2 linked regions of the Homo sapiens genome follow. The protein of the gene in region 2 interacts with the protein of the main gene of each other region in a pairwise test. Each region holds a gene or a part of one and is shown on either strand. Other genes may lie near its edges. The genes, in order: ASB10 and ANTXR1.

Region 1 (7,705 bases), on a different chromosome or scaffold from region 2:
AGCCTTAGAAAGGAAGGAAATTCGGCCGGGCGTGGTGGCTCACACCTGTAATCCCAGCACTTTGGGAGGCCGAGGTGGGTGGATCACAAGGTCAGGAGATCGAGACCATCCTGGCTAACACGGTGAAACCCCGTCTCTACTAAAAAATACAAAAAGTAGCCGGGTGCGGTGGTGGGCGCCTGTAGTTCCAGCTACTCGGGAGGCTGAGGCGGGAGAATGGCGTGAACCCGGGAGGCGGAGCTTGCAGTGAGCCGATATCACGCCACTGCACTCCAGCCTGGGCGACAGAGTAAAAAAAAAAAAAAGAAAGGAAGGAAATTCTGAAACATGGGACAACATGGGTGAAGTCTGAAGACATCATGCTAAGTGGAATAAGCCAGTTACAAAAGGACAAATACCACATGATTCCACTTATGTGAGGTCCCCAGAGTGTTCACATTCAGAGACAGAAAGTAACATAGTGATTGCCAGGGGCTTGGGAGACAGGGTGGGGTGGGTGGTTAGTGTTTGATGGGGTTAGAATTTCAGTTTGGGAAGATGAGAAAGTTTGGAGATGGATGGTGGCGATGGTTGAACAACAACATGAATGTGCTTAATGCCATCGAACTGTACGCTTAAAAATGGTTACAAAAGGCCGGGCACGGTGGCTCGTGCCTGGAATCCCAGCACTTTGGGAGGCCGAGGCGGGCAGAACACGAGGTCAGGAGATTGAGACCATCCTGGCTAACACTGTGAAACCGCGTCTCTACTAAAAATACAAAAAATTAGCCAGGCATGGTGGCGGGGGCCTGTAGTCCCAGCTACTCGCGAGGCTGAGGCAGGAGGATGGCGTGAACCCGGGAGGCGGAGCTTGCAGTGAGCCGAGATCGCACCACTGCACTCCAGCCTGGGCGGCAGAGCAAGACTCCGTCTCAAAAAATAAATAAATAAATAAAAAATGGTTACAAAGGCAAATTTCATGTATATTTTACCACCATTTTGAAAATTAATTTTACATATTTGTCTTTTTTTTTTTTTTTTTGTGAGACAAAGTCTCACTTTGTCTCCCAGGCTGGAGTGCAGTGGCGCAATCTAATCTCCGCTCACTGCAACCTCCACCTCCCAGGTTTAAGCAATTCTCCTGCCTCAGCCTCCCGAGTCGCTGGGATTACAGGCGCCTGCCACCACACCCAGCTAATTTTTGTATTTTTAGTAGAGACAAGGTTTGGGCATGTTGGCCAGGCTGGTCTCGAACTCCTGGCCTCAAGCAAGCCACCTGCCTCAGCCTCCCAAAGTGCTGGGATTACAGGTGTGAGCCACCGTGCCCGGCCATTTGTCATTTTTTTTATAGGGCTGCTAGAACACTGTAAATTGCATATATGGCTCACATTAGGTTTCCACTGGGCCACGCTAGTAAAGAACACATCTTCAACCATAGTATGATTAAGCCTGTGGAATCCTCTAGAGGCTGATGAGATTAACAAGAAGGAGAGGGTCCATGAAAGGAGAACCCCAGGGTCAATAATTTGGCACCTTTCAGAGGCAAGAGACAAGACCTGCAGGTGTGCAGTCAGTAGAGAGAGGGCCTCTATAGGATGTAGAGTTAGTTCACAAAATTGTAATTGGGATCCCATCCTACAACGTTCCTTACACTTGGGTTGCAATTATTTATGTCACTGCAAAGGACTATTCCCTACAATAAATGATACATTGGCACATTTGGGTGTATTCATCAGTTTCTTGGGAGTTTAGTTAGTGAGAGTCCCTTGAGCCCATGATCTGAGGGTGCCCTACCAATATGGAGATTCTAGACCTGTCTTGGAAAACCAGACCCTACCCAGAGGGACCCAGGCAGGTCCTCACTGGGGCCACCATCCTCTACTCCCTGTCTGGATCACTGGACAGTAAGCTCCCTGAGGGCAGGGCCTCAGGGACTTAGTTGCTGTTGTGCTTAGCACAGTGCCTGGAACATAGGATAAGCTCAGAAAGTGTTTTCAAAAATTTTAAGCAACACCACCTCCCCATAATGGAGCCAGGCAATTTCCCAATGCGGGCCATGCAACTGCACCCCTGCCACAGCCTCCCTCCACCCCTGGGAGACCAGAAAACTGTCCAAAGTCCAGGCCACTCCAAAGTTCATGGGGTCAACGGGTGGATGGCTTGGGAAGTAATTGCACCCTGACCCGCGCCCCAAGCCTGGACTGCTCTGTCCCAGGTCCCTGACATTTTCCCCCATCCTCCCTGAGAAGGCCTCTTTGCTTCCCTTCAGAGTGGAACTGGGGGTTGGGGTGAGGGGTCACTCACTCAAGGGTGCCAGGCCCCCGGCAGAGATGCAGGGGGCGTTTCCCATCCTGGTCAGCGATGTTGGGGTCGGCTCCTGCCACCAGCAGCACATGAACACAGGCAGTGTGGCCTGCAGCACAGGCCTCGTGCAGGGCGGTGCGGCCCCCAGGGGCACTGTCTGGCCTTGCTCGCCGCCTCAGCAGCAGCCGCAGGACTTCCGTGTGGCCACGGCTGGCTGCCACATGCAGTGGGGTGGTCAGCTCCTCTTCGTATGTCAGAGACCAGAGTCCTAGGGAGGGGAGACGTGGGCCTCAGATCCCCAGGGAAGGCAGAGACCTTCCAGCCAATGGGGTGAGGTGGGCAGAGGCAGGAAGAGGGAGCCCAGAGCTCCATCTGCAGCCTCCCCTCTCTCCCACTGAGAGCCCCCAGTGCCCCGGCCCGTACTCAGAGCACGGATGTTGAAGCGGAAATCCCTCCATCGCTCTGGGTCGCTGGTATCAAAGACGGAATCAGGAGCCAGGCCAGTACTGGAGTCCGCGAGGATGCGGGAGACACAGCCCACGTCCCCAGCCAGCACTGCCTGCCAGAAGGCAAGGGCAGGTCCTGAGGCTGTGCGGGTGACGATGGGTCCCGGGCCAGACTTGAGGTGCTCCTCAGACCCTCTGCTGGGCTTCTCCACCAGCCTGGCACAGAGGGGGTGTCTGTCATCGAGGGGCTCTCCCTGCCCCTTGCACTCTTCTGGAGACCAACTCATGAGCATGTGGGCAGGGAAAGGGGAGTGGGGAGGAGGAGAGGTATATGCCAAAGGCAGAGAGAGAGAGAGAGAGCAGGAGGGAAATACAGACAGACAGAAGGCCCCTGTGTCCCACGCTCCGAGGCTGACCTGGCCACGCATCCAGCAGGAGCTATTCTGGGCTCCACATGACTGTGTTCTTGGGCCAAGGTGTAGGCTATTGGGCAAGCTTTGAGGTCGGGGAGAAACAGCCGGGGGCTTCTCCTTTCACTCAAGCCCTTAGGACCTCTGTGGCCGAGGCAGTCAGCCCAGCCCCCTGGTTCTCAGCAACCCCCAGATGCCCCTCACCCCTCTGGTGGCTGCTCCAGCGAGGCTCTGCGGCCCGGCTCTCCAGCAGCAGGTCGGCTGTGCTGTGCGGGGGGAACAGCTCCTGCAACCTTGCCAGGTCCCCGGTGTAGAGGGCATTCTGCAGGGCCATGTCTTGGCAGAGCAGTGGTGATGGCCGAGGGGGCTCCCAGGCTGGGCGGGAGTGGGGCCTCCAGATCCGGCAGGCCGGGGCGGAGGGAAGGCACCCCAGATGGTGTCCCCAGTGGGGAGAGGAGTTCTTTCCCCAGGGCATGGCTTGTTCTGGGAGAGCCAAAGCAGCACGACTCCCAGCGATGTTGCTGGTGGACTGGGCAGGTGGGTGCTGGGCCCGAGCTGGGTGGGGCCCAGCATGGGAGGCGCAGGGGAGCACAACATCAGGCAAAGCCATAAATAGCCCTGACTGGCCCAGCTGTCAGTCAGGCCGGGTGGGGGAATTAGGGAGGGGCAGGAGAACAAGTGAGGCCTGAGCCCGCCAACCCTGAGCTTCACCCCAGGGCTGTATGACCTCAGGGTGGAAAGGGACCACCCGGACCATGCTGCCCAGTCCGTCATCTCGGCATTAAAGGGAAGTGAATTTCCCAAGATCACGCAGAGAGCTTGTTGCAGAGCCAGGACTGGAACCCAGGGCCTTGAGCTCTTTCTTGTTCACCAAATCGGCCTCCAGCTGCCTGGGCTCTGATCCCACTGGGAAGGCCTGTGGGTGCCAGATAATATTTCCTGCCCTTCCAAATGTCATCTGTTAGCCCTGCACCTTCCCACTCCCAAACCAAGGGAGGAGTTCACAGTAGTGACACAGATTGCCCTCGCTGTGTGAGGCACCCCTCAGGGGGCTCCCTTAGACAGACGTGTGCCTGAGTAACAGAGCGTAACCCACAGGCAAGCCACAGAAACTCCCCATGCTCGTCCTTGATGCCAACCCCCCCATCTCCCTGGATGACCTTGGGTGGCATCTCTCCCCTGCTGTGGTTACATGGGGTCTCTTCACTAGAGAGTGAGAAAGGAGAAATGTCTCTGTGTACTCAGGCACTGACTTTTGTTTGGGGGCCGGGTGGATCAAAAGGAAAAAAAGAGAGAAAGAAGATGAGAAACCAGGCCCTCGGGCTCAGCTCTGACCCACCACTGCCCACCATGGGCTTGAGGTGCTCCAGCCCCATTGGTCTTGCCCCTTTGGCTCACGCTGGCTTAAAAAAATTTTTTTAAATCAATTGCTTTTTAAAAAGTTTCATTTTTAATTGACAAATAATTGTATATATTTATGGGGCTATAATATTTTGATACATGTATATAATGTGTAATCATATCAGGGTAATTATCACATCTATCAAATGATATTTACCATTTATCTGTGGTGAGAACATTTAAAATCCTCTTTTAGCCATTTTGAAATGTACATCATTATTCACTACAGTCGCCTTGCTGTGCAATAGAACACCTGAACTTATCCTATTTACCTGTAACATCATACCCACTGACCAATGTCTTCCCTTTCCCTTTCCCTGTCCACCTCCCTCGAGCCCCCAGCCTCTGGGAATCACCATTCTACCCTTTACTTCTATGAGTTTGACTTTTTTAGATTCCACAATAAGCAAGATCATGCGGTATTTGTCTTTCTGCACCTGGCTTATTTCACTTAGCACAATGTCCTCCAGATACACCACATTTAAAAATCCATTCATCTATTGATGGACACCAGTTGTTTCCATCTCTTGGCGATTGTGAGTAGTGCTGCAGTGGACGTGGGGGTGCAAACCCCTCTTCTGCATGCTGATTTCAATTCCTTTGGGTATATACCCAGTAGTGGGATTGCTGAATCATAAGGTAATTCTAGTTTTAGTTTTTTGAGGAACCTTCATTCTATTTTTCAAAATGGTACTAATTTACAACACCACCAACCATGCAGAGTCCCCTTTTCTCCGTATCCTTGCCAACACTTATCTTTCATTTTTCAATAATAGCCAGTCTAACAGGTGTGAGATAATATCTCATTATGGTTTTTGATTCACATTTCTCTGATTACTAATGTTGAACATATTTTCCAATATATGTTGGCCATTTGTATGTCTTCTTTTGAGAAGTGTCTGTTCAAGTCCTTTGTTCATTTTTTAATGGGGTATTTTGTTGTTGTTGTTGTTATTTAGTAGTTTGAGTTCCTTGTGTAGTTTGGATATTCACCCCTTATCCGATGTTTGATTTGCAAATATTTTTTTCCCAGTCTGTAGATTGTTTCTCCACTCTGTCATTTCCTCTGCTGTGCAGAAACCTTTTAGTCTGGTACAATCCCATTCATCTACTTTTGCTTTCATTGCCTGTGCTTTTGAGGTCATATCCAAGAAATCTCTGCCCAGACCAATATCATGGAGCTTTCCCTTATGTTTTCTTCTAGGGGTTTTATAGTTTCAGGTCTCCTGTTGTCTCTTACTACCTGTGGACACACCTTGGCCTTCATCCACACACTGTGTACATGGTCCATGGGTCTGCCTCTTTCAAGAGAACACTCTGGGGCTCACCAGCCCTTGGTGGTATGGTTGCCCCTGCTCCCTAAGTTCTCTGACCCCGTTCTCCCCTGAGCTGTTCCCTCCCCAGCAAGGGGAAACCCACAGATGGACTCCCACCCCAGGGGCAGGAGGCTCTATCCCATTGAGCCCTGAGGGTTAGGCTGTGGTCAGAGGATGCAGTGCACAGCTGGGGCAGGCAGAGTGCCAGGGGACAGGTCTTTAGAGGAAAGAGATGAAGGCCACTCTGAGAAACTGGGTCGATCCAATGCTGCTCTCCCATGTCCATTGCAGCATTGGGTCTACTAGCAGCCCTTACCCTAGTCACAAAGCCCTACCGCTTCCCCACACCTCTGCTGAGCCCTGCTTCCCATCCTGCCCCCGCCACTCCCCAAGCACCTCTCTGCCCTGACTTCCCAGACACTTTTGCTACAATAGTCAAACCCTAGAGTAAAAGGGACCTTAGAAATTCCTGGTCCAATCTCTCTCTGCTTTATAAGTAAGAAAACTGAGGCCCAGAGACAGGAAAGCACTCTCCAGGTCACACAGGGAGTTAGTGCCAAGTGCATTTAGAACCAGGGACAGTTAACTTCCAGACCTGTGCTTTTTCTATCTGACTGCAGACCTTCCTTCTCCCTACTCTTCTCTTTCCCTCTCTCCTCTTCCTATTTTTTCTCCCTTAAATACCTCAAGGAGGAAGAGATTCAGGGAGCCAGGATAGGACAATGACAAGGAGATGAAGACCTGGAAGTGGGGGCTGAGGACAGGGATCTAGGAGGCAGAGCAAGGAGGTGGCAGTGAGCTGGCAAGGGCCAGGGCCCAGGAGAGAGGTGTGGGCTAGACAGCGCCAGGCACAGGTGGGGGCACAGAGGGAAGGGTGGGAAGACACGGACATGGATGGACAAGAAGAGTTTGTTCCCAAGTCATCTGGGCATTTATGCCTCTGCCCCATCCCTTTACCCTTGGGCCACTGCCCTGTCCCACGCCACTAATCTCAGGTGCCCGCAAGCCTTAGCCATCACTTCCTTTTCTTCTTCTCCTTGTCCAGCTTGGCCTCCTCGGCCTCCAACTGGTCCATCCTGTGTTTCATGCTCTTCTTGCCCAGTGGGGTCTTGAAGTACCAGTCCTGGGTTGGTGGGTACAGGAGTGGTAAGGCCCTCAGACCCATCCTGACCTCACCCCTCCCCCTTTTACAGATTGTTTCCTCAGCAGCCTCTTCTCCTCTCCTCCTGGGTTTGGGGGTCCTATTAGTGCTGGGGTTTCCCTTGCTCCCCACCAAATGCTTCAGGTACAATGTCAGCCGTTCTTAGTGGGCAAGCCCTCTTCCCTCCACACCTGCAGCCCTCTCTCCTGCATTCCCAAGGCCATCCTTGGCAGGGGCACTGACTCGGGGGTGGGAAAGGTGGGTGGCAGCTGCTACCAGAACCCACAAAGGGCTCCTGATACCTCGGTGGTTCTTGCAAGCTCCCACCCTCAGGGAAACCAGGTGGGACGGCCCCGAAGCCTTGGCATTTCCTGGTGATTTCCTGCTCCCTTCCCAGCTGAGCTCCACACACATTTCCACTGATTGTCTTCTGGTAATTTGTGGGAGCAGAGAGAGGGGTCCGAGTTGTGCTTCAGGGGGCTGACTCCCCAAGGGCGCTGCTTACCCACAGCCCCTGGCCCTGCCACCTCACCTTCAGGGACTCCTCCTCCTCCCTGTACACTGGATCCAGCTTCACCAGTTGTCCCAGGAACTCAGAGGCCACCAGGGGCCGCTTGGACAGTTGCAGGAACCGCCGCTCACTCAGCACCGATTGGATGGCTTGGAGAATGTGACCCGGCGTGTAGCCATCGGAGACCTTGGCTAGGG
Region 2 (2,947 bases):
GAGGCTGCAGTAAACCATGATTGCATCACTGCACTCCAGCCTGGGTGACAGAGTAAGATCCTGTCTCAAAATAACCCCCAAAACACAATTATTAAAGATATAATTTTAAAATGTGTTCATACCCATACCTATTAAAAAGCAAATACTAATGAAAACTTAGAAAAGACTTGTGGCATGACTTTCTGTTTGTGGATGGTTTTATTCCAATTAAGATGTATTCAAGGCTCAATGAGATCTTACAAAGAAATTCAGGAACTAGAAGGAGATGCTCTTCTACCTACAAAATAAATGGAGGAGCTGAATTAAAACTGCTAGGAGGGATAAAGTGAGTTGTATCAGAAATGCAGAAGCAATACAAAGATTTTGAGATGTACATAGAAAGGTATTTATTGCAGCACTGTCCACAACACTGTCTGGTTCTTGGGTTGCTGCAAATCTCTGGACTCCTTGTAAAATCAATCCTAGTTGCCTTTCTGCTACGTTAGCCAAACACAATCCTAACTGATGCAGTATATTTTTCCTGTGTGTTCTGTTTTCACTTTTTACTTATTTTCTCTTAGCATGGATTACATTTTTAATTTGAAATTTGTTATGAGAAATAAAAAATATTTTGAATGTCTGACAGCTAAGGAAGAAATGACAGTAATCCAGACAGTAGAGAAATTAGTGGAAGGCATGAAATCATTTGAGAAATGTAATTTAATGTATAGCACAGCAACCACTGTATTATGATCAGGATATTGAGAACTTGAATACGTCGCACTTTATAACAAACAGACAAATAACCAGAAAAAAGAGTTGATTTAAGAAATTTATTATTTTTTTTAAAAAAGCAACTTCCAGGGTTGTCATTGTACAGGTTTTGCCCAGTCTCCTATAGCATGGTATTATGATCAGGATATTGAGGACTTGAATACGTTGCACTTTATAACAAACAGACAACCAGAAAAAAGAGTTGATTTAAGAAATTTATTATTTTTTTAAAAAAAGCAACTTCCAGGGTTGTCATTGTACAGGTTTTGCCCAGTCTCCTATAGCATGGTATAGTGATAACTGATTTTTTATAACAATGACTCAGAGGCATTGAAGATCCATAACTATCTTCTGAATTATCACAGAAAGAAGAAAGTTAGAAGAGTTTAATGTTAAGTGTATTAAAAATCATATTCTAATTCTTTTAATTTGGTTATCTGAGTATGATAATATAGGAGAGCTCAGATAACAAGAAAAGGCAATTGGTTAGAACACTCCATTCCCACAGGATGTGCATTAACAGACTTTTTACTGCATATGTCTTTATATAGTTTGCAAACTAATTCAACCATTTTACACAGCATTAATTTTTTTTTTAACTGGGTTGACATTGGGCTGAAACATTTGCTTATCATCTTATAATTATTTTTTCCTGTTCTTTAATGGATTTTACCCCCATCTGACATAGTGTTTGGACTTTAGTGTATGTGACACTTCAAGATCATCTCTGCCCATTCTGATGATAGTTACAATGAGGTTACCCATGGCCAGATATCGAAGACTATTAATTAATCCACCAGCTCTGTTCTCAACTTTGGTAAAAGAGAGATCTTGTGTCTCACTGGAGGGTGCACCAAGCTTCAGGCAAGAAACTGTGAGCTGGCTGTCAACAGAATATGGTTCTTATCAAGGTTCTTATTAATGCTGTGCAAACAAGGGTCTCGTCATTTCAGTAACTATTTGTACATTTATAAAAGCAATACAGTCATGGGAAAAACCAACAAGCACAGCTTGGTAGAATAACCTGCCATGAAATATCATCGGCTTTATAATAATTTACTACAACTGTTCTTTTTATTCACACTGGATAGGAAATGCTTCCATCTAACACATGGAATACGAATATATACAACACAAATTTGGCTTTAATAAAAAAAAAAACAGTTCAAAAGGACAATAACACGGGGGCTGAAAACAATAATTTTGTGCAGTTTCCTGATCATAATCACATGTCTCCTGCCTTTTACAGGGAATGACACAAGTATTGATGGATTTTGTAAACCAGTTAAAACATTTTCCTGCCTGTAATAGCCCACTATGAAGATATCACCTTGTTCATACAGTCTTATAGAAGTTTCTCCTTCTTAACTGTAATTCTAAATAACCGGGGATGACACACTGAGTCGGTTTAAGAACAAATCCTGCTGAGCCTTTTCAAAATCATCATACATTTGCAGTTCCCTATTCCATCAAAATGCTTTGCCGAAACAACATCTTGTAACTGCACTGGGCATATGACTGATGTGCTGAATGGTGCATTTGCACTGATGCTCACCATCTCGTTGCTCAGCAACGTCAGCATCTCGGCTTGAACTTCTGAATGGCCGCGGGAATCACGCGGCAGTGCCATGGGGTGGGTGGACTGTTTTAGACTGCCAGCAGTCAAAACAGTTGTGATGGGCTCAATGTCTCTACACTGTGAGCCTGGGGAACCCATTCTCCTATGGAATGGTTTTCAGGGGTCCAGCAATGTCACTGCAGGTGGCTGAGATATTCTGGCCCCTGCTTATGAGGAACTACATGAAAGAAGAAGCCTAGTGTTCTAAAAATTAGACAATGCGGCAGGGTTGGGGAGAGGCTGGGGGGTTGCTTTCATGAGTCTGGAAATTTCTGGTTTTAGCTCTCTGAGAAGGCTGGGAGACTCTGTTGTAGGCAGCTGTGGGAGAAGGCTAGGGTTGGAGGTACACCTGGAGATGTGTCAGTTTGGTGTTGGCACTGCAGATTCAGCGCCCGTGGTCCCTGACTAAGGCACTCTGCCTAGATCTATTTTCCCCTGACTGTACCTTTTATGCCCCCTGGCTTTCCCATTCTCCCTGGAAACTCCTGTTTGTTTTTGCTTTCTAAGATAGAGATAGCAAGTAGGGTTCATTTCTCTCATCTGACTGTTGGGTTCATCTGACTGTTGAGTGGCGGC

What was found.
Region 1: the proteins of ANTXR1 (region 2) and ASB10 interact in a two-hybrid assay, tested with the Homo sapiens proteins (one study listed by BioGRID).

What each region holds. Positions count from the first base shown.
Region 1 is NC_000007.14:151,184,109-151,191,813, forward strand, and holds the start of ASB10 (ankyrin repeat and SOCS box protein 10), read right to left. Parts: upstream 3,143-7,705; 5' UTR 3,023-3,142; coding exon 2,707-3,022; intron 2,552-2,706; coding exon 2,284-2,551; intron 1-2,283. Other genes in the region: DRC11L (IQ and AAA domain-containing protein 1-like), read right to left, coding at 6,872-6,979, 7,530-7,705. UniProt on the Homo sapiens protein: May be a substrate-recognition component of a SCF-like ECS (Elongin-Cullin-SOCS-box protein) E3 ubiquitin-protein ligase complex which mediates the ubiquitination and subsequent proteasomal degradation of target proteins.
Region 2 is NC_000002.12:69,247,179-69,250,125, reverse strand, and holds the end of ANTXR1 (anthrax toxin receptor 1 isoform 1 precursor), read right to left. Parts: 3' UTR 799-2,947; downstream 1-798. UniProt on the Homo sapiens protein: Plays a role in cell attachment and migration. Interacts with extracellular matrix proteins and with the actin cytoskeleton and thereby plays an important role in normal extracellular matrix (ECM) homeostasis.